Homo sapiens: one gene and its partners. The protein of the gene in region 3 interacts with the protein of the main gene of each other region in a pairwise test. Each region holds a gene or a part of one and is shown on either strand. Other genes may lie near its edges.

Region 1 (7,022 bases), on a different chromosome or scaffold from region 3:
ACTGTTGGCAATTATGAACAAGGTGCATTTCTTTTAACCACAGCTCAAAGTATGCATGATTTGATGTCTATGTATAGGGAGGTAGACAGAAAAAGAGACAAGAAGTCAGGCAGGTTGAATTCTCCTCTACTCTTATTTTGTTCTTTTTTTTTGGAGACGGAGTTTCATTCTTATTGCCCAAGCTGGAATGCAGTGGTGTGATCTCAGCTCACTGTAATCTCTGTCTCCCAGATTCAAACGGTTCTCCTGCCTCAGCTTCATGAGTAGCTGGGATTACAGGTGCCCGCCACCACGCCCAGCTAATTTTTTGTATTTTTAGTAGAAATGGGGTTTCACCATGTTGACCAGGCTGGCCAGGCTGGTCTCGAACTCCTGAACTCAGGTGATCCACCCGCCTCAGCCTCCCAAAGTGTTGGGATTACAGGCATGGGTCACCGTGCCCGGCCTTCTCTACTTTTATTTCTATATATTTGTTTTCCTTTCAAAGCCTGAAAGGATATTATAAGTCTGCCTTAAAGTCCTTCTCTTAATTATCATTTTCTCTCATTTATACTTGTTCTGCATTTTCTATGAGAGGGATTTTTTTCCGTATGGAATCCATACACAGTGGCTTCTTGACATTTAGAAAGGGATTTATCTCAAGGCTTGTACAGATTATCAAATTTATTAGCAGATAATACCTTTATGGGATACAATTTCTCCCATAAAGTGTAATGAAGTAACATTTTCAATAACTGAATGTGAATAACTGAAAAATGTATGTGATTCATTTAGACACTGGATGAGCAGTAACAGCCTCATATATGACAGCAGAGGGGAGTATCAATGCTGAATTGAATGTAGGATGATTGGCTAGTCTCAATCACTAAATGACCAAAGTGCTTCTTTACACTAATGAAAGCTATTCAAGTTATCTTCTTTGTAAAATTATAGATTACTTAGGTCATAGACCTTTGGGTAATATAGTTAATTGAAACTCTGAATTTAAAATTTTTGAATGTCAAAGTTCTATCATATAAATAACTAAATTAGCTGGGCGTGGTGGTGCACGCCTGTAATCCCAGCACTTTGGGAGGCCGAGGTGGGCGGATCACCTGAGGTTGGGAGTTCAAGACCAGCCTGACCAACATGGAGAAACCCCGTTTCTACTAAAAAATACAAAATTAGCCAGGAGTGGTGGTGCATGCCTGTAAAAGAATTGCTTGAACCTGGGAGGTGGAGGTTGTGGTGAGCCGAGATTGTGCCATTGCACTCCAGCCTAGGCAACAAGAGTAAAACTGCCTCAAAAACAACAACCACCACCACCACAAAAACCCACTAAATTAGATCTTTATGTTTATTTACTGTTATAATTTTGGGGAGTCAGTTAATTTATAGTAAATAAAGTTTAGTTTTATAAATTGTGGACAAAAAGAGAAAGGACTAAATTCTGTTTTCATAGAAAATACTGGTAGAGAGGATTTTGGTGAGTTTTAGATAGTTTTTTTTTTTTTTTTTTTTTTTTTGGAGACAGAGTCTCACTCTGTCGCCCAGGCTGGAGTGCAGTGGCACAATCTCGGCTCACTGCAAGCTCCGCCTCCCGGGTTCACACCATTCTCCTGTCTCAGCCTCCCGAGTAGCTGGGACTACAGGTGCCCGCCACCATGCCTGGCTAATCTTTTGTATTTTTAGTAGAGACGGGGTTTCACCGTGTTAGCCAGGATGGTCTCGATCTCCTGATCTCGTGATCCGCCCTCCTTGGCCTCCCAAAGTGCTGGGATTACAGGCACGAGCCACTGCGCCCGGCCGAGTTTTAGACAGTTTTTAAGGTATGTTAAAAAATTTTTCTAAAATTTCCATCACCAATTATAATTTCCTTCTCTTTTTTACTATTTTGATACTTTTATTTATTTTTGTTTGTTTTTTTGAGACAGAGTTTCGCTCTTGTTGCCCAGGTTGGAGTGCAATGGTGTGATCTTGCTCACTGCAACCTTTGCCTCCTGGGTTAAAGCGATTCTCCTGCCTCAGCCTCCTGAGTAGCTAGAATTACAGGCACCCGCCACCATGCCTGCTAATTTTTGTATTTTTAGTAGAGACGGGGTTTCACCATGTTAGCCAGGCTGGTCTCGAACTCCTGACCTCAGGTGATCCTCCCACCTCGGCCTCCCAAAGTTCTGAGATTACAGGCATGAGCCACCATGCCCAGCCTATTTTGATACTTTTAAATTTCAGCCAAGAGTTTTCCTTCATCTTTTCCGTAATACCTCACTTGGTGACTCTAATAAATAAGTGACCTTTCTCCTCTGGGAGATTTCCAATTTTTTAGTTTGGCACTCTTCATTATATAGGAAATATGGTTATGAAACTATTGTGCAGAATTTCCAAAAAGCTTAGTAGATTTTGTTATCTAAACTTTAATTCTTTGTTTTTCCAACAGTTTATTCAGAATTGAACACGTATATATATATATATATATATATATATATATATATGTTTGTTTGTTTTCTTTTTTCTTTTTCTTTTTTTTTTTTTTTTTGAGACGGAGTCTCATTCTGTCTCCCAGTGTGGAGTGCAGTGGTGCTATCTCGGCTCACTGCAGCCTCCACCTCCCGGGTTCAAGCGATTCTCCTGCCTCAGCCTCCTGAGTAGCTAAGATTACAGATGGCCACCATGCTTGGCTAATTTTTATATTTTTAGTAGAGACAGGGTTTCACCATGTTGGCCAGGCTGGTCTCGAACTCCTGACCTCAGTTGATCCACCCATCTTGGCCTTCCAAAGTGCTGGGATTACAGGCGTCAGCCACTGCACCTGGCCATGAATTTATATTTGTTAAACTGCTTTAGGTTGACTGTTCTTGGCTTTTTTAAAGCAGTTTATGTAGGCTGCATTTGTAGTTCATTTCTTTGGCTTGCCTTATCCTTTAATTCCAGTTGTCTCCAAATATTTAGATAGAAATCAGTTCTTGAGATTGATACTGCTATATCTGAATAATAATTAACATGACTGCTGTGTGTGGTTAAATTGGTTGAAATTGATTGAATACTGCATATTCTGCTGTGGTATATTAGTGATACATTAAGAGACATAATCTGTGAGCTCAAGAAATAATTATAAAAATAGGGATTTAATTATCTGAAATTAATAGAGTTTATATCTTTTTTTTTTCTTTTTTAAGGTGTCTGAGTCCAACGGAGAATTTTTTTTCAAGTCTTCTGAACTTTTTGAGAGTCCAGTATATTTGGAGGAAGCTGCAGATGTACTTTGTATTTTACAAGCAGGTACTGTACTGAGTGCTAAGATGGATTTCATATATAGTTTCTTGTTAAATGATACTGTGTAACTTCTTAGCCTGGTATGCTGTGTTATTTTAGGGATCATATAACAAACATGTTATGTGATTTTAAGTCAAAAGTGACTAATAGTTGGACAATGATTAAGTAAATTATATTATTTTCATAGTGTGACATATTATGCAGACATTAACATGGTATCTTTGATTTAATGACTTTAATGCTCGTTAATGATTTTGGAAAATGTTTACAATATGTTAAGTGAAAAAAGCAAAGGGCAAAGTGTTAAGTAGACTATAATCCCAGTTTTGTTAAAAGTTCAAGAACAATACCCTTGATGAATTAAAATAAAATACTTATTTTTTTTTAGAGACAGAGTCTTGCTCTGTTGCTCAGGCTGGAGTACAGTGGCAGGATCATAGCCCACTGGCTTGAATTCCTGGACTCAAGGGATCCTCCCACTTCAGCCTTCTGAGTAGCTGGGACTACAGGCCTGTGAAAACATTTTTTATTAACTTTGAATTCTGGGATTAGGGCAGATTTTAATTTTCTTCTTCGTACCTTTTTGTATTTTCCAGATTGTATATAATAGGTGTGAATGATAGAAATAAAAGAGGACAGAAAAATGTAAAGAAGGCTGTCGCTCATGCCTGTAATCCCAGCACTTTGGGAGGCCGAGGCAGGAGGATCACTTGAGCTCAAGAGTTCAAGACCAGTCTGGGCAACATAGTGAGACCTTGTCTCTACCAAAATGAAAAAAATTAGCCTAGTGTGGTGGTGTATACCTGTAGTCCCAGCTGCATGGGAAGCTGAGGCAGGAGGATGGCTTGAGCCTGGGAGATTGAGGCTGTAGTGAGCCATGATTGTGCCATTGCACTCTGTCCAGAGTGAGACCTTGTCTTTTTTTTTTGAGATGGAGTCTCACTCTGTCACCCAGGCTGGAGTGCAGTGGTGTGATCTCGGCTCACTGCAACCTCCGCCTCCGGGGTTCAAGTGATTCTCCTTCCTTAGCCTCCTGAGTAGCTGGGATTACAGGCATGCGGCACCATGCCCAGCTAATTTTGTATTTTTAGTGGCGACGAGGTTTCACCATGTTGGCCAGGCTGGTCTCGAATTCTTAACCTTGTGATCTGCCTGCCTCAGCTTCCCAAAATGCTGGGATTATAGGCATAAGCCACTGTGCCTGGCTGCAGACCTTTTCTTAAAAAAAAAAAAAAAAAAAAAAAGTATAGGCCAGGCACGGTGGCTCACGCCTGTAATCCCAGCATTTTGGGAGGCCGAGGTGGGTGGATCACCTGAGGTCAGGAGTTGGAGACCAGCCAGGTCAACATGGTGAAACCCTGTCTCTACTAAAAATACAAAAATTAGCCTGGTGTGGTGGCAGGCTTCTGTAATCCCAGGTATTCGGGCGGCTGAGGCAGGAGAATCGCTTGAACTCTGGAGGCGGAGGTTGCGGTGAGCTGAGATTGCGCCATTGCATTCCAGCCTGGGGGACAAAAGCGAGACTTCGTCGCAAAAAAAAAAAAAAAAAAGCAAATAAGATTTTCGTGAAAATAACTCTTTAGACCAGTTCTATAAAATAAAATTTCCTGTACTGTTCTATGCTATGCTGTCCAGTGTTCTTTGTGGCTGTGGATTACTTGAAATGTGGCTAGTGTGATTGAGGAACTGAACTGTTTTTAATATAAGTATCCTTATGTTGCTAGTGGGTATCCTACTGGACAGCTTGGTTCTAGACTATGAAAAGAAAGTACTTTATTTTAGATGACATTTGTGAAATGTCAAAAGATATTTAATAATACAATGAAATGTCATTTTTGGTTGGGCATGGTGGCTCATGCCTGTAATTCTAGGAGTTTAGGAGGCTGAGGCAGGAGGATTGCTTGAGCCCAGGAGGTTGAGGCTGCAGTGAGCTATAATCACACCACTGCACTGTAGCCTGGGCAACAAAGCAAGACCCTGTCTTAAAGAAGAAAAAAAGAAATATCACTCTTTAACACTGGGTCCAGGCATGGTGGCTTATGCCTGTAATCTTAGCACTTTGGGAGGCTGAGGCTGGAGGATCACTTGAGGCCAAAGTTTGAGACCCACCTGGGCAACACAGTGAGATTCAGTCTCCACAGAAAATAAAAAAAATTAGCTGGGTGTGGTGGAGTGCACCTGTTAACAAAGACTAACACTGACTTTGTTTTCTTGTAGAGCTCCCTTCCTTGCTCCCTATAGTTGATGTAGCTGAAGCTTTGCTACATGTTAGAAATGGTGCCTGGTTCTTGTGTCTCTTGGTGGCCAATGTTCCTGATAGTTTTAATGAAGGTAAATATGATTCTAATATGGTATATTGAAAAGACTTGCTTGGACATGTACAGGACCTATCTTTTTGACCTAAGAAGAAACATTAATGGGATTTTATTTGAGATTTTATCTTTTGAAAGTTTGTTAGTATGTATAAAGAAATATTGAGTTCACAAATTGTATTGAGTTTAAAGATCAGGCTGGGCGCAGTGGCTCACACCTGTAATCCCAGCACTTTGGGAGGCCGAGGCGGGCAGATCACAAGGTCAGAAGTTTGAGACCAGCCTGGCCACTATGGTGAAACCCCATCTCTACTAAAAATACAAAAATTAGCTGGATGTGGTGGTGGGTGCCTGTAGTCCCAGCTACTGGGGAGGCTGAGGCAGAAGAATCGCTTGAACCTGGGAGGTGGAGGTTGCAGTGAGTCGAGATCGCACCACTGCACTCCGGCCTGGGCGACAGGGCGAGACTCCGTCTCAAAAAAAAAAAAAAAAAAACCCCAAGGAACTAGAAGATGTAATATCTATAATCAGGGATCAAAGAAGATACATGTATCAGTGAAATATCAAGAGAGCAATACGGGATATGTATAATGAGAAATGCTAGGAATCAGACCTTTGTTTTTTAGCCCTACTGCTGTCAGTTTACAGAGAAGTATAAAGTAGAAATTGAGAAAAATCGACTACATTTTTTCACCTCTATTTAAAACTTACAGTGATTGAAGGTTGTTGTTTGGGTATGAGTGATATAAAAATAAAAACATTTTGTTGAGCAAGGTAGTTTGTGAATTAGGAGCCTGGGAGGAAAAAGTACTGGAGTTATAATTCCTGATTTTGTCATTCACTTATTGTGTGAGCTCTATCAAAATACTTCTCATCTGGCTGGGCACGGTGGCTCATGCCTGTAATCCCAGCACTTGGGGAGGCCGAGGTGGGTGCATCATTTCAGGCCAGGAGTTTGAGACCAGCCTGGCCAACATAGTGAAACCCCGTCTCTACTAAAAATACAAAAATTAGCTGGGCTTGGTGGTGGATGCCTGTAATCTCAGCTACTCAGGAGGCTGAGACAGGAGAATTGCTTCAATCTGTGAGGTGGAGGTTGCAGCGAGCCGATATGTGCCACTGCACTCCAGCCTGGGCAACAGAGTGAGACTCTGTCTTAAACAAACAAACAAACCAAAATACTTCTCATCTGTAAAATGGAGATATTGATAGTGTAATAGTTCCCTGACTTTTTTAAGAGATTTATTGAATATCAGATGATATGTAAAAACTCTTTGTAAACTGTGTCCTTGCCGATTTTTTGTCAACTTGTTCTGTCAATTACTGAGAGAGGAGTTTTGATGTCTCCAGACATAATTGTGGATTTGCCTATTTCTTCTTTTTGTTCTGTCAGTTTTTGCTTCATGTATTTCAAAGCTCTTTTGTTGGGTTTATATGCATTTAGGATGATTATATCTT
Region 2 (7,932 bases), on a different chromosome or scaffold from region 3:
GGCAACATCCCTGATCCTGTGACTTCTGCCTATGCAGCCTCAGCTCAGCCCCAGACCCAGCCAGCCTGTCCTTTCCCCAGCTCCTAATACCTCTACCTTTCCAGCCAAGGCATGGACCCTGACACCTGCCAACAGCCCCTCTGCCCTCACAACCTCAGCCTGGCCTTCATGACTTCTCTACCCAAGTCACAACCTGTCAGGCTGCACCACCTCATCCTGGCCCGCCGAACCTTGACCTCACCCCTGCCCCTACCCGAAGGCCCTCTGTCCACACAACATGAACCTAGGCTGTGACCTTTTGCCTTCACAACCTCTGTCCAGTCCTTAATCCTGTGTTGCAATTCTCTGTCCAGACAATCTCAACTCTGAGGTTGCTTGTTTCGTCCCTGACTCCTTAACCCCTGATGACAACTCTTATGCCAGCACAACTTTGACCTGATGACCTCATCCCAGCCCTTGATCGCCATCACTAAAACAATTTTAGAATCACACCTGGACAATCTCGTGCTACCTACATACTGCCACTCCATTTCATTAAGCTATTGACTAGCACATCCATCTCGGCCTATAGTTGGCTTTGTCCTCACTCTCTCACTTTGGGCCACTGTCCCCTCCCTGATCCAGGGTTCCACCACCAGGAGGGCAGACCCAGCCACATACCACAACCACCCCCAAGCCTCACACTCCCTTGTCTTTTTCCAGACTGTTAAGCCAAGACCTGCCAGGAGTGTCTCTAAGAGATCCAGGAGGGAGCCACCCCCAAGGACCCTGCCAGCCACAGACCTCCAATAAAGACAGCATGGAAACAAAGTCTCTGTTCATGCATCATCATGCATTGTCTTAGTTTGGGTCTTCCCAAAAGCAGACCTTAAGACAATAATTCCAGTACAAGTAGTTTATTGAGAGGAGATCCCAGGGCAGGGCACGGCAGCTCACATCTGTAATCCCAGCACTTTGGGAGGCTGAGGCGAGGGGATCACCTGAGCTCAGGAGTTCGAAAACAACCTGGGCAATAGAGTGAAATCTCATCTCTGCAAAAAAAAATTTTCAAATTATCCAGGCATAGCCAGGCACGGTGGCTCATGCCTGTAATCCCAGCATTTTGGGATGCTGAGGAGGGTGGATCGCCTGAGCTCAGGAGTTCAAGACCAGCCTGGCCAACATGACAAAACCCCGTCTCTAACAAAAATACAAAAAATTAGCCAGGAGTGGTGCCACACACTTGAGGTAGGAGGATCACTTGGGCCTAGGAGGCAGAGGTTGCCGTGAGCTGAAATCACACCACTGCACTCCAGCCTGGGAGACAGAGCAAGACCCTGTCTCAAAAAAAGAAAAAATTATCCAGGTACAATGTTGTGTGCCTGCAGTCCCAGCTACTCCGGAGGCTGAGGTGGGAGGATTGCTTGGGCTGGGAGGTCGAGGCTGCAGTGAACCATGATTGCGTCACTGTACAGCAGCCTGGAGAAGAGAGTGAGAGCTTGTCTCAAAGAAAAAAAAAGAAAGAAAGGAAGAAAGAAAGAACGAAAGAAAGAGGAAAGAAGGGAGAAAGGGAGGAAGGGAGGAAGGAAGGAAGGAAGGAAGGAAGGAAGGAAGGAAGGAAGGAAGGAAGGAAGGAAAAAAAAAAAAAGAAAAAGAAAAAATAGAGAGGTGAACAACCCAGGTACCGATGCAGGGAACTGGAGGCAGCCAGGGAATAATGTGTTTTCAAGCAAGTTTCCACTGTAGGCAAGAGAGCTCAGTCTCACTTCGAAGCCCTGAGGGAGAGCATAGGACACATACCTGAGTCATCCCACACAAGGGTTGAGGGAGCTGGGGTATTTATACACTAATTCCCACCAGTTATTATGTGAGGGCTGCTCTCAGGGACATGTTAATTCACTGGCACTTTTGGAATGCTTGTTACACAGACATAGTGGACTCCATCTGCTAGATACAAATGGCTGCAAATGTCACCTCCTCAGGGAAGTCCTCCCTGATTTTTCCAGCTCAAAGAGTGGCATTTTTGCTCAGCATTCACTGCAGCCTATTTCCTTCTAGGTCCTCCTTACCAGCTAGAAATGTCTCATGTATGAGTTTAGGATCTTATCTACCTCCATCATCTGTGAGCTCCAGGAAGGCAGAAACCAAGTTTGGTTAGTTCTCTGCGGCCTCTCCAGCACCTAGCATGTAATAGGCACTCGGGAAACATTTGTTGACTAGACAAAGGCTTACATGAATCTTTTGAAACTGATATTATCGTCTTGTACAAATAAGGAAAACGAGGCTCAGAGAGAGGAAATGACTTGTCTGAGGTCACACAGAGGGAGAGGGGCCAGCTGGTACTCGGCTCCTGGACCGGATTTATGCTGACTCATTTATTCCTCAGAATGGCATTTACTTACCTCTGGCTTTCAAGTAAACATCTGTGGAAGCCTAACAGAGATACAAGAAAGTGCTCCCAAGGGCACAGCTTGATGAATTTTCACAACAGCACACAGCCATGTAACCAGGACCCAGCTCAAGAAATAGAACATGTTAAGCCAAGCGTGGTGGCACACATCTGCAGTCCCAGCCACTACAGAGGCTGAAGCAGGAGGACTGCCTGAGCCCAGGAGTAGGAGACCAGCCTGGGCAACATAGTGAGACCCTGTCTCTTTACAAAAAAAAAAAAATTAAAATTAGCCAGGCATGGTGGCATGCACCTGCAGTCCCAGCTACTCAGGAGGCTGAGGCAGGAGGATTGCCTGAGCCCAGGAATTCAAGGTTGCAGTGACCCACAATCATGCCTGGGAATAGCCACTGTACTCCTGCCTGGGTGACAGAACAAGGCTTCGTCTCTCTGGGCACAGAGGCTGATGCTATTCCTGTATTCCCAGCACTTTGGGAGGCTGAGGCATGAGGATTGCTTGAGCCCAGGAGTTCAAGACAAGCATGGGCAACATAGTGAGGCCCCATCTCTACAAAAAACAAACAAACAAAAAGTTAAAAATTAGTCAGGTAGCATGCACCTGTAGTCCCAGCTACTCGAGAGCCTGAGGTAGGAGGATCGCTTGAGCCCAGGAGGTTGAGAATGCAGTGAGCTGTGATTGTGCCACTGCACTCCAGCTTGGCCAACAGAGCAAGACCCTGTCTCAAAAAAAAATCTTATTAAAAAAAAAAGAACATGCTAAATTTGTGTTATATGAATTTTACCTCAATTAAAAAAAAAATAGGCCAGGCATGGTAGCATGTGCCTATTATCCCAGCTACTTAGGGGGCTGAGGTGGGAGGATCACTTGAGGCCAGGAGTTCAAGAACAGCCTGGGCAACAAAGCAAGACCCTCATCTCAACAACAACAAAAAAATTGTTTTTAATAAGCCAGGTGTGGTGGCATGCAGCTGTAGTCCCAGCTACTCAGGAGGCTAAGGCGAGAGGATCTCTTGAGCCCAGGAGTTAGAGGTTACAGAGAGCTATGATGGCACCACTGCACTCCAGCCTGGATGACAGACCTCATCTACAAAAAATAATAATATTCATATTATGTATAATGTAATATTATTTATATTACTATGTAATATAAATATTATATTTTTATTTTATGAGATCTATATTATTTTTATAGACCTCATTTATAAATAATAATAATAATAAGGGCCGGGCACGGTGGCTTACGCCTATAATACCAGCACTTTGGGAGGCCAAGGCGGGCAGATCATTTCAGGTCAGGAGTTCAAGACCAGCCTGACCAACATGGTGAAACCCCGTCTCTACTAAAAATACAAAAAAATTAGGCAGGCATGGTGGTGAATACCTGTAGTCCCAGCTACTCAGGAGGCTGAGTAGGGAGAATCACTTGAATCCGGGAGGCAGAGATTGCAGTGAGCCAAGATCGTGCCACTGCACACCAGCCTGGGAGACAGAGCGAAACTCCTTCTCGATAAATAAATCAATTAATAATAATAAGAGTAATAATAAATCTTGCCATCTTCCAGAAGCCCCCCTTGTACCCTCTTCCCAGCCACCAGTGCCTCCAAAAGAAACTGATACCCTGCTTGTTAGACATGGTTTTGCCTGCTTTAGGACTTTATGTAAATGGAATCACAAAGTGTATACTCTTCATTGTTTTGGGGTTTTTAAATTTATTTATTATTGCTTTTTAGAGATGGGGTCTCCCGAGGGCAGGGAGGGGAAAAAGAAAAAAAAAAGTTAGATATGAGGTCTCCCTATGTCACCCAGACTGGAGTGCACTGCCTATTCACAGGCATGATCACAGCTCACTGCAGCCTCGAACTCCTGGCCTCAAGCGATCCTCCTCCCTCAGCCTCCTGAATAGCTCAGATTACTGGCATTTTATGGCTTTGGTTTTGGTTTTGGCTCAACATTGTTTGTGATTCACCCAAGTTAAATCATTCTTTAGTTTGTTCTCACTGCTGTATGATATTCTGCTGTGCGAAGAGATCACAATTTATTCCTTCTCCCACTAATGGGTACTTAGGCTGCTTCCAATGTGGGGCTATTATGCATTGTGCTGGGGGGGCATATCTATTGGACGTCTACCTAGCAATGGAATTGCTGAGTCAGAGAAGATCCAGCTAGTAGTGTTAGTAGATCCTGCCAAACCGTTTCCCAACATGAGTGAATGGGTCTACACTCCGGCCAACTGTGGATTAGAGTTCTAGGTGCTTTGTATTCTCGCCAGCATTTGTTCAGCCTGTACTCATTTTGCAGAGAAGGCAACGGAGGCTCAGAGAGAGGGGCAAGTGCTGCCTCCCCGTCAGGGAGGCAGTCTGGGTCCTTCTTGCTAGAAGCCTGGTAACCCACCTCCTCTCTTCTCCTCCCTCGAACCTCCAGCAACCTGCCCGCACTGTGCCCTCCCAGCCTGGCTGTGGGGTGGGGTGGGACAGAGAGGGTCACGTGGAGTTGGGTTCCGAGGGAGGAAGCCAGGCGGGGTGCAGACGGCTGCTGATTCTGGGGCTGGTCAGGAAACCAAGGTAAGGGAGGGAGTGGAGGTGGGGGCAGGGGGATTCCTGGAGGCAGAGCTGAGGGTGGGGAGGGGGCCGAGATGAGGGCAGTATGTGGACAGACACTGGGCACTACTGTCACTCTCTCGTCCCCCAGGAGACCCCCCCCCCCAACCATGGACCCACCGTCGCCAAGCCGGACCTCCCAAACCCAGCCCACAGCCACCTCTCCGCTGACTTCCTACCGCTGGCACACAGGGGGCGGTGGGGAGAAGGCGGCTGGAGGGTTCCGCTGGGGCCGCTTTGCTGGCTGGGGCAGGGCCCTGAGCCACCAGGAGCCCATGGTCAGCACCCAGCCAGCCCCTCGCTCGATATTCCGTCGGGTCCTATCTGCGCCTCCCAAGGAGTCACGGACCAGTCGCCTTCGACTCTCCAAGGCCCTCTGGGGGAGGCATAAGAACCCACCGCCGGAGCCAGACCCGGAGCCGGAGCAGGAGGCCCCAGGTACATGGTTCCCCCACCCTGAGCTTGGGCCGGGCTGGGAAGCCGGATGCTTGGGTTTTGTCTGCCTCCGGAGCATCAACCATACAGACACAGGAAGTTGTGGGGAGTGCAAAAGCCCAGCAGGAAGCCGCTGGGGCCCAGCTACCCTGTTCCCTCTTTCCCCCTAAAGAGGGTAGGAGGAGTTGCCGGGGTCCTGTGGGCAGAGGGTCCATCTGAGGAAGGAACAGTGAATGTAAACCCGTGATAGTATTGTCCAGAGGCTAAACGGCTCTTGGCCCCAACGGGTCTCTCCTTCAATGGCTCAGGCCCATCCTTTCCTACCTGGATATCCATCTTCAGCCTGCCTCCTACTCTCCTACCTTCTAGCTTCCGTGTCTTTGTTCTGAGCCCTTAAGCCTCAGCCTCTCCATCAGTTCAGTGAGAATAATGATCTCCATTTTGGAGAGTATATAATTTTATTTGCTCATATTCATTCATTTATTCAAGCAGAGGTTTGTTGAGCTTCTATTGTATGTGCCAGGCCCTGATTTAGGCACTGAGGACACACTAGTGAAAGAGACAGATGACCCTCCCTGCCCCATGGAGCTCACAGTGTAGTGGAATTGACAGGAAATCCATCAACAAGAAAATGACAGATGGGCCAGGCATGATGGCTCACACCTGTAATCCCAGCACTTTGGGAGGCCAAGGTGGGTGGATCACCTGAGCTCAGGAGTTCGAGACCAGCCTGGCCAACATGGCAAAACCCTGTTTCTACTAAAAATACAAAAAAAAAAAAGTATCTAGGCATGGTGGCACATACCTGTACTCCCAGCTACTCAGGAGGCTGAGGCAGGATAATCGCTTGAACCCGGGAGGTGGAGGTTGCAGTGAGCTGAGATTGCACTACTGCACTCCCGCCTGGGCGACAGAGGGAGACTCCATCTCAATGGAAGAAAAAAAAAAAAAAGAAAGAAAAAAAATGACAGATGGTGCTAAGTGTCACACAGGGGGATCTAGAAGAGTAATGGATATCACAAGAATTAGGGCTCAGGAATGTAACACTAGCCTAGGGCCCAGCATTTTTTTTATTTTTTTTTTGAGATGGAGTCTCGCTCTGTTGCCCAGGCTGGAGTGCAGTGGCGCGATCTCGGCTCACCGCAAGCTCCGCCTCCTGGGTTCACGCCATTCTCCTGCCTCAGCCTCCTGAGCAGCTGGGACTACAGGAACCCGCCACCATGCCCAGCTAATTGTTGTATTTCTAGTAGAGACAGGGTTTCACTGTGTTAACCAGAATGGTCTCGATCTCCTGACCTCATGATCCGCCCGCCTCAGCCTCCCAAAGTGCTGGGATTACAGGCGTGAGCCACCGCGCCCGGCCCCAGGCCCAACATATTTTAAGTGATCCGTTAATAAGCGGGAGTTATCATTTATTGCTCCTGGTGGTAAAAACAAGGGAACAGACAGGCAATCTGGGAGGGCTAATTCAGCCCTCCTATTTCCTGGAAGCTCATTTAATTCTCACTGCTTATATTCCCATTTTGTTTTTGTTTTTGTTTTTGTTTTGAGACACAGTCTCACTTCCTTGCCCAGGCTGGAGTGCAGTGGCGGAATCTCAGCTCACTGCAACCTCTGCCTCCCAAGTTCAAGAGATTCTCCTGCCTCAGCCTCCTGAGTAACTGGGATTACAGGCATGTGCCACCACGCCTGGCTAATTTTGTATTTTTAGTAGAGACGGGGTTTCTCCATGTTGGTCAGGCTGGTTTTGAACTCCCAGCCTCAGATGATCCACCCGCCTAGGCCTCCCAAAGTGCTAGGATTACAGGTGTGAGCCACAGAGCCCAGGCACATCAGGCTATTTTTTAAAGACAGGGTCTTGTTATGTTGCCCAGGCTGGTCTCAAACTCCTGGTCTCAAGCAATCTGCCCCACCTCGGCCTCCCAAATGTTGGGATTACAGGCATGAGCCACCTTGCCCAGCCCCTGTCCTGTTTTTTAACCTCTTGGACCCACATAATGTCTTGGTTAAGAGAAGAATGCAAAAAAAACAAAAAAACAAAAAAAGAGAGAGAGAGAAGAATGCTTGTGACTGAAGCCCAGCCCAACCACTCACAAACTGTGTGACCCTGAGCAAGTCACTCAACCTCTCTGAGCCTGTTATCATAGCCCTTTGAATGGCTTTTGGAGGATTCAATGCAAGAAGGTGTGTGGAGTGGTATACAGGGTACTGGGCACATGGTAGGTGAGTTGTGTCTGCTACCCATGGTTAGTGGGGACAAGGCCCAGACAGCGATGAAAGCTTGCCCAAGGTCATACAGTCTGATACGGCTGCTGGGGTGGGGGGCACCTAGGAGGGAACCCACCATGAGCCTTCGGGAATGGAAAGGGTAGCCTGAGGGAGAGAAAACGTCTCTTAAGTCCCCCAGTGCCTCCTCTTCTTCCCAGAGCTGGAGCCGGAGCCAGAGCTGGAGCCCCCTACCCCACAGATCCCTGAGGCCCCCACACCCAACGTGCCTGTCTGGGACATTGG
Region 3 (7,022 bases):
ACGGGGCTTGAGGGAGGAAGGGAGGAAATGGCAGGAGAGATGGACAGACCTGAGCCAATAATTCATTCTAAGAGCAGTTTTTATTTAGAAATGTGCTTCCACAACTTGGTGGCCACCTGGGGGCAGGTAGCCCCGGCTTGCTTGTTCTCTCTTTCCTAGCCCAAGAATCGGGTCCTTGGGTCTAAAGCACAGGGCCAAGTTCTCAAGGATCAACATCCCAGACAGCTCCCATGGTCTGGGGCTTGGAGCTGGTATGAAGGGTGAACCAGGTTCCATCCTGGACTGTTTATGGTTGGAGGGCCTGGGCCCCTGGCACCAGGACCTCAGCTCCCTCTCCTAGTAAGAGCTGGGATCACCCACAGGCCAGCTGTGGCCAGGTCCTGGTGGATATGACATTGGGAAGAACAAGGGGCTAAGAGAGGCTAATTTTCTGGTGCTGGATCCAGTTTATCTTCCTGAGGGGTGGAAGCCGGGGCAGGAGCCTCATCCCCACCATTGAGGGACTTCTGCTGCTCATTGCTGTTGGGCGAGGGGGTCCTGTTGCCCTGGGATCCCCAGCGGGTCAGGCGCTTTAGGGAGGAGTCACGGTGGGCAAGCAGAGGGGGCTGGAAGCCTGAGAAGGAGCTGCTGGTGACCGGACGCTTATCTGGCAGAGAGAAGGCAGGCAAGTAAGGAGAAAGGCATGCAAAGGTGAGAGGCGAGGGGCCTTGCCTCAGCCCTCAGAGGAGAGGGGAGCCTCCTGACTGCCAGTCCTGCTTTTGCTGGCCCTGGGAGATCTGGAGGTCTCCCAGGGAGACCTTTCTCCCTCCTTTCTCCCTCCCAGCTCCAGGGAAAGCTCCAGAGTCTATTCCTTCTCACCTCCAGGCTCAATTGGATGCATCAGCCGGTTCATCTGGACATTCCAGTGTTTCACGTTGGTGCTGGCCTGGCGCAGTTTTCTCTGGGCAGCCTGTGGGGACAGGGCCAGTGGGGAGTGATCAGAACCATCATCCATGGCATGGAGTCTTGATCTTTTCAGGTTCGCAGGCTGCTTAAAATCTGACCAAGACTACTGATCATCTCCCCAGAGAAAAACCATATATGCTCATAGAGTTATTAATACATACATGAATAGAGTTTGCCTCCAATTTCATGGGACTCATGGACTTCCAAAAGATAAAATGTAACCATAATAATAGTTTCCGTTTATTGAGCAGCTAAGATGTGCTAAGCATATTTATTATCTTATTTAACTTCCAGAGCAGAAGTTAACAACAAAAAAGTTCAAAAGAGGTTAAGTGACTTGCCCAGGGATACACTTGAGCTCTAAGCCACTGCACTACACCACCTTTCCAGCACCTAATCCAAGAACCTCTGTTCAACATTTCACGGAGCCATTAGCAGTGGTTGTGAGGTGGGGGGGATCATGGAGGAATTTTCCCTTTCTATGTTCCATATTTCTGTGTTTGAATTTATGGAGATTAAAGCTCCAAGGAGTAGAGCCAAAGTACAAGGATAGCAAGACAGGGGCTTGGAAGGGTAGAAGGAAAAATTTTTCCCCAGATTAATAATGATGTGAACAAAGATAGCAGCAAATGTTTCTTCAGCACTTACTACGTACTAAGTATCATGTATCATCTCATTTAATCTTCATAACAACGCTATTACCAGTTTCCCAGGTGAGAGACTAACTCCAAGAAGTTTGGGCATTTGTCCAAAGTCACACAGCCAGCAGCTGCTAGGGCCAGGGTTTGAGGGAAGGCAGCCTGGCTCCAGAGCCTGTGCCCTAATGAGCTCACCCTGCCAGCCTCCACCCCATCCCACCCCAGGCCTCACCTCCACATCCTCGTCAGCCCTCTGCCGGTTCTGCCGCACCTCCTCCAGCTGCTGCTGGGCCTGCTGCAGGGAGCGGCTCTGCTGTGCCATCTCCTGCTGCAGCTCTTCCTTCTCCTGCTGCGCCCGTTCGATGTAGCGCTCCTGCTCCTCCTTCAGCTGCATCAACTGCTTCAGCTTCTCTTCCTCCTCTTCCAGCAGTCTGCCGGGTGAGTGTGTACTGTGTAGCCTCTAGTGCCAAGGCACCTTGCAGGTGCACAGCAAGCAGGAAAACTGGGGTGTGTTCCAGGAGGGGTGGTGAGAGAACCAGAAGAGGTTCCTCAGGCCTACCTGGTCTGAGCGATTCGCACAGATTCTTCATCTCGCCGAGCTTTCACCTCTAGTTGCAGGGCCTCCTGCAACCGCTGCTGCATCTCCTCCAGCTCCTTGATGCGCTGCCGCTGCCGGGCAGCCTCCTCCTCCTTCAGCTCCATCTCAGCCTGCATGGAGGCCCGGGCCTGTGGAGGGGGGAGGTGGTGGACCAAGAGCCAGGTCAAAAGGGGCACGTGGGGGCGGAGGAGGAGGGGGTGGGCATGTTGCTAAGCTGCCTAGGGGTGAGGGTCTGGGGAACTCCTTCATGTTGGGGTTTCCTGATCTGACCCCTTTCTGAGAGCCTGACTGGAACAGATAATGGTCGGTGAACAGATGCCACGTGGGGGAAACGGGCTCAAGTTATTTCCTTCCTAGTACCAACCTTAATCATAATTATATAACATGTAATTAAACAACATTATATAATTAAATAAGATATAAAAATATGGTCATCTCCTTCCTAGCACTAACTTAATAATTATTATAATATATAATAATATGTTATAATCATGGCTGATGCTAGGAAGGATGTGACTATAACTACAATTATTACAACAAAAAGTTACTGGACACTACAAGTGTTTCCTCATTTAATCCTCACCGTACCTCTGTGAGCAAAGTTCTATTAGCATTAGCATTTTACTGATAAGGCTCAGTAAAATGAACTTGCCTGGGATCACGGGGCTCGTAAGAAGCAGAGCTAGGATTGAATCTACGTGTTTCTGACTCCAGATCCAGGTTTCTTAAATCCTAAATCTAATTGCCTCTGCACACCTAGTCCGCCTCCATACGCGTCCCGCTTGCCTCTCAAACTGGTTTCACTGTAAACTTAGTTCAAGTCTAGTCCAAACTTGGTCCAGTCTAATCCCCAATCACACGGTCTTCAACGGCTCCTTCTGCCCAAGCCCCAACCCACAGCCAAGGTCTCCGAACCAGGCCCCATCCATCCACGGGCTCGGACCTCGCCCCACACCCCTTTCCTAGCCCCAGGTTCTGTCCCTGGCGGAAGCCCCATCCCAAATCTCTTTTTCAAACCCGCGGACTCTGTCCCAACAATCCCTCATTTCAAGCTCCACCCCAGTGCACGCCCCTCAACCCAGGAGCTCCGCCCTCTGCCCAGGCCCCGCCCCCGGCGCTCCGCCCCTGGCCAGCCTCCCAGCCCACCGGTCCCGTCCCCGGCGCCGGGAGCTAACCCCACCTGCTCCGCCTCGCGCAGTTGGCCCTCGAGCGCCTGCTGCAGCTCGCGGTGCTGGCTGCGGCGCCGTTCCTCCTCCTCCTGCAGCAGCCGCTCGGCCTGCCGCTGCGCCTCCTGCAGCAGCTCCAGCTCCTGCAGCTTCCGCTCCTTCTCCTCCTGCAGCTGCTGCAGCCGCAGCAGCTCCTCTTCCTTGGCCGCCCGGCGCCGCTCCCGCTGCTCCCGCTGCTCGCGCCGTTTCTGCTTCAGGTCCTTGTGTAGGGACGTCTTCCCCTCGGCCTGCAGCCGGATCGCCATCTGGATGGCTGCCGAAGAGCGGGAGCGGGTCAGTAGGATCCTCGCACACGGCCCGAAAGGGGCCTTAGGAGTTTCCCGAGTCCACTCTCCAACCTCCCGCTGGACAAAGTATTATCACCCCCTTTTCACAGATGAGGCGCCTAAGGACCACCCAGACCCAAGCCACCTAGCGAGCACTCACCAGCTGTCCACTCCTGGCGCTGGCGCGTGTCTGAGGCGCTCATCTCATACGTGCGGTTGGCTGTCTTCACACAGAACATGCAGCGCTTTCCGTCGCGGTCTGGCAGCACCTGGCACAGGGTAGGTGGCCGCAGCCAGGCTGGCCTCACTGGGTCAGGGCCCCACCTGCCCCAAGGGTGCTCCAGCTCAAGCCCCTAGCCCTCCTGGCTATCTTCCCTGGGGACCCCACTCTGCCAGGAGCCTGCATGGCTTGCATCATAAGTTATGGGGGACTTAAGTCCCCACAACTCTGTAGCCTTTGCTCTTTGAAGGCTAGGTGGGTGCGTTTCCATCTTGCTATTATTCCACGGGGCCCAGTACATAATCGCCACTCAGTGTTTATGCAGATCACGCTTGAACACTGCCAGTAACAGGGTCCTCACTATCCATGACAACTCACTTCCACATAGCCCTGCTTGTTAAGAGTTCATTCATTCATTCCGCAGATGTTTTTGGAGTGCCTACTGAGTGCCACTCACTGCTCCAGGGGTTGGGATACTAAGGTGTGCCTAACAGACCAAATCTCTGCCTCCATTAAGTTTACATTCTGTGGAAAATAATAGCTACCACATTCTAGAGTCTGTACTAGTATTTTATATGCATCATTATCTTCACTCCACCTATACAGCTTTGCCAGGCAGGCATTATTAGCTCCACTTTACAGAGAAAGAAACTGAGGCACTAAGAGCTCCAGGATTGTCCACCTCACACTGTTAGTCTGTTAGTGATGAGGCTTGGACTTCTGCGTAGATCCGTGCTCCTTTCCACAGTAACACCTTATGTGACAAAATTAGACAGATCCTAGGATGGCTATGATAATTTTTTAAAAGGAAAAACAACTGTTGGTAAGGAAATGGAGAAACTGAGATCCTCACACACTGTTAGGGATATTATCCAGCCTTAAAAAGGAATGAAATTCTGATATATTTGACAACATAGATGAAGCCTGAAAACATTTCTAAGTAAAAGAAACCAGACACAAAGGGACAAATATTTTATGATTCTATTTATGTAAGATACCTAGAAAAGGCAAATTCATGGAGACAGAAAGCAGAATAGAGGATACTAGGAGCTGGGGTCAGGGAGTATGAGGAGTTATTGCTTGGTAGGTACAGAGTTTCTGTTTGGTGTGATGAAAAAGTTTTGGAAATAGATAGTGGTGATGGTTGTACAATATTGTGAGTATAGATCTTTCACCATGATCAGATGGGATTCATCCCAGGGATGCAAGGATGGTTCAACATGCACAAATCAATATGCATGACACATCATAGTAACAGAACCAAGAGCAAAAACCATATATGATCATTTCAATAGACCCTGAAAAAGCTTTCTAAAAAAATTCAACATCGTGTTATAAAAGCCCTAAAATATTGGGTATAGAGGCAACATACCTTAAAATAATAAACGCTATCTATGACAAACTCACAGCTAACATTGTAATAAATGGAGAAAAATTGAAAGCCTTTCCTCTAAGATCTGGAACAAGACAAGGATGCCCACTTTTACCACTTTTATTCCATGTAGTATTGGGAGTTCTGGCCAGAGCAATTAGGCAAGAGAAGGAAATGAAGGGCATCCAAACTGGAAATGAAGAAGTCAGATTAGCCTTGTTTGCAGATGGCATGGTCTTCTACTTAGAAAAATCTAAAGACTCCATGGGGCGTGGTGGCTTACACTTGTAATCCTAACACTTTGGGAAGCTGAGGTGGTTGGATTGCTTGAGGCCAGGAGTTCGACACCAGCCTGGGCAATACAGTGAGATCCTGTCTCTCTCTTAAAAAAAAAAAAAAGGCCGGGCACAGTGGCTTATACCTGTAATCCCAGCACTTTGGGAGGCCGAGGTGGGCAGATCATCTGAGGTCAGGAGTTTGAGACCAGCCTGGCCAACACGGTGAAATGCTGTCTCTACTAAAAATACAAAAAAAAAAAAAATTAGCCAGGTGTGGTGGCAGGTGCCTGTAATCCCAGCTAACTTGGGAGGCTGAGGCAGGAGAATCACTTGAACTCGGGAGGCGGAGGTTGCAGTGAGCTGAGATCGTGCCATTGCACTCCAGCCTGGGCGATAAAAGCAAGACTCCTCCTCCTCCTCAAAAAAAAAAAAAAAAAAAAAAGGGACTCCAACAAAAAACCGTTAGAGTTGATGAATGAATTCAGTAAAGTTGCAGGATAATTCAACATACAAAACCCAGTAGCATTTGTATACGCTAACAGCAAACAATCTGAAAAAGAAGTTGAGTGCAATCCCATTTCCAACAGCTACAAAGAATGTAAAATACCTAAGAATCGATGTAACCAAAGTGAAAGATCTATACAAGAAAAACTATAAAACTGATGAAATAAATTGAAGAGGATGCAAAAAAATGGAGAGATATCCCATGCTATGTATTGGAAAAATTAATATTGTTAAAATAACAATATTACCCAAAGCAATTTATAGATTTGGTGCAATCTCTGTCAAAATAGCAAAGGCATTCTTCATAGATATAGAAAAAAAATCCTAAAATTTATACGGAACTACAAAAGACCTCAAATAGCCAAAGTAAGCCTGAGTAAAAAGAACGAAGCTGGAGGCATCACATTTCCTGACTTCAAAATACACTACGAACTGGCCACGGTGGTACACACCTATAGCCCCAGCTATTCAGGAGGCTGAAGCAGGAGGATCCCATGAGCCCAAGGAGACTGAGGCTGCAGTGACCTATGATCATACCACTGCACTCCAGCCTGGACACCAGAGAAAAATCCTGTCTCTAAAATAAAACAAAAAAACAAAATGTAGTACAAAGCTATAGTAACCAAATCAGCATAGTACTGGCATAAAAAGAGACACAAAGACCAATGGAACAGAATAGATAACCTAGATATAAATCCATGCATTTACAGAGAACTCATTTTTGACAAAGGCTCCAGGAACACACAATGGGGAAAGAACAGTCCTTTCAATAAATGGTTCTGGGAAAACTAAATAACCACATGCAGATGAATGAAACTAGACCCCTATCTCTCACCATATAAAAAAATCAAATAAAAATGGATTAAACATTTAAATGTAAGACCTGAAACTATGAAACTACTAGAAGAAAACATTGGAGAAATATTCCAGGACATTGGTCTGGGCAAAGAGATTTTTTGTGGAAGACCTCAAAAG

What was found. Proteins that work in one complex are often made in the same cells at the same time.
Region 1: the proteins of DEF6 (region 3) and INTS2 interact in binary tests that used the Homo sapiens proteins (3 or more experiments, as listed by UniProt).
Region 2: the proteins of DEF6 (region 3) and RASAL3 interact in binary tests that used the Homo sapiens proteins (3 or more experiments, as listed by UniProt).

What each region holds. Positions count from the first base shown.
Region 1 is NC_000017.11:61,917,961-61,924,982, reverse strand, and holds part of INTS2 (integrator complex subunit 2), read left to right. Parts: coding exon 1-22; intron 23-3,155; coding exon 3,156-3,258; intron 3,259-5,469; coding exon 5,470-5,583; intron 5,584-7,022. UniProt on the Homo sapiens protein: Component of the integrator complex, a multiprotein complex that terminates RNA polymerase II (Pol II) transcription in the promoter-proximal region of genes.
Region 2 is NC_000019.10:15,461,523-15,469,454, reverse strand, and holds the start of RASAL3 (RAS protein activator like-3), read left to right. Parts: upstream 1-4,910; 5' UTR 4,911-4,950; intron 4,951-5,077; 5' UTR 5,078-5,096; coding exon 5,097-5,424; intron 5,425-7,847; coding exon 7,848-7,932. Other genes in the region: PGLYRP2 (N-acetylmuramoyl-L-alanine amidase isoform 2 precursor), read left to right, coding at 1-87. UniProt on the Homo sapiens protein: Functions as a Ras GTPase-activating protein. Plays an important role in the expansion and functions of natural killer T (NKT) cells in the liver by negatively regulating RAS activity and the down-stream ERK signaling pathway.
Region 3 is NC_000006.12:35,314,811-35,321,832, reverse strand, and holds the end of DEF6 (differentially expressed in FDCP 6 homolog), read right to left. Parts: intron 3,943-7,022; coding exon 3,834-3,942; intron 3,661-3,833; coding exon 3,362-3,660; intron 2,310-3,361; coding exon 2,143-2,309; intron 2,015-2,142; coding exon 1,816-2,014; intron 950-1,815; coding exon 859-949; intron 647-858; coding exon 423-646; 3' UTR 62-422; downstream 1-61.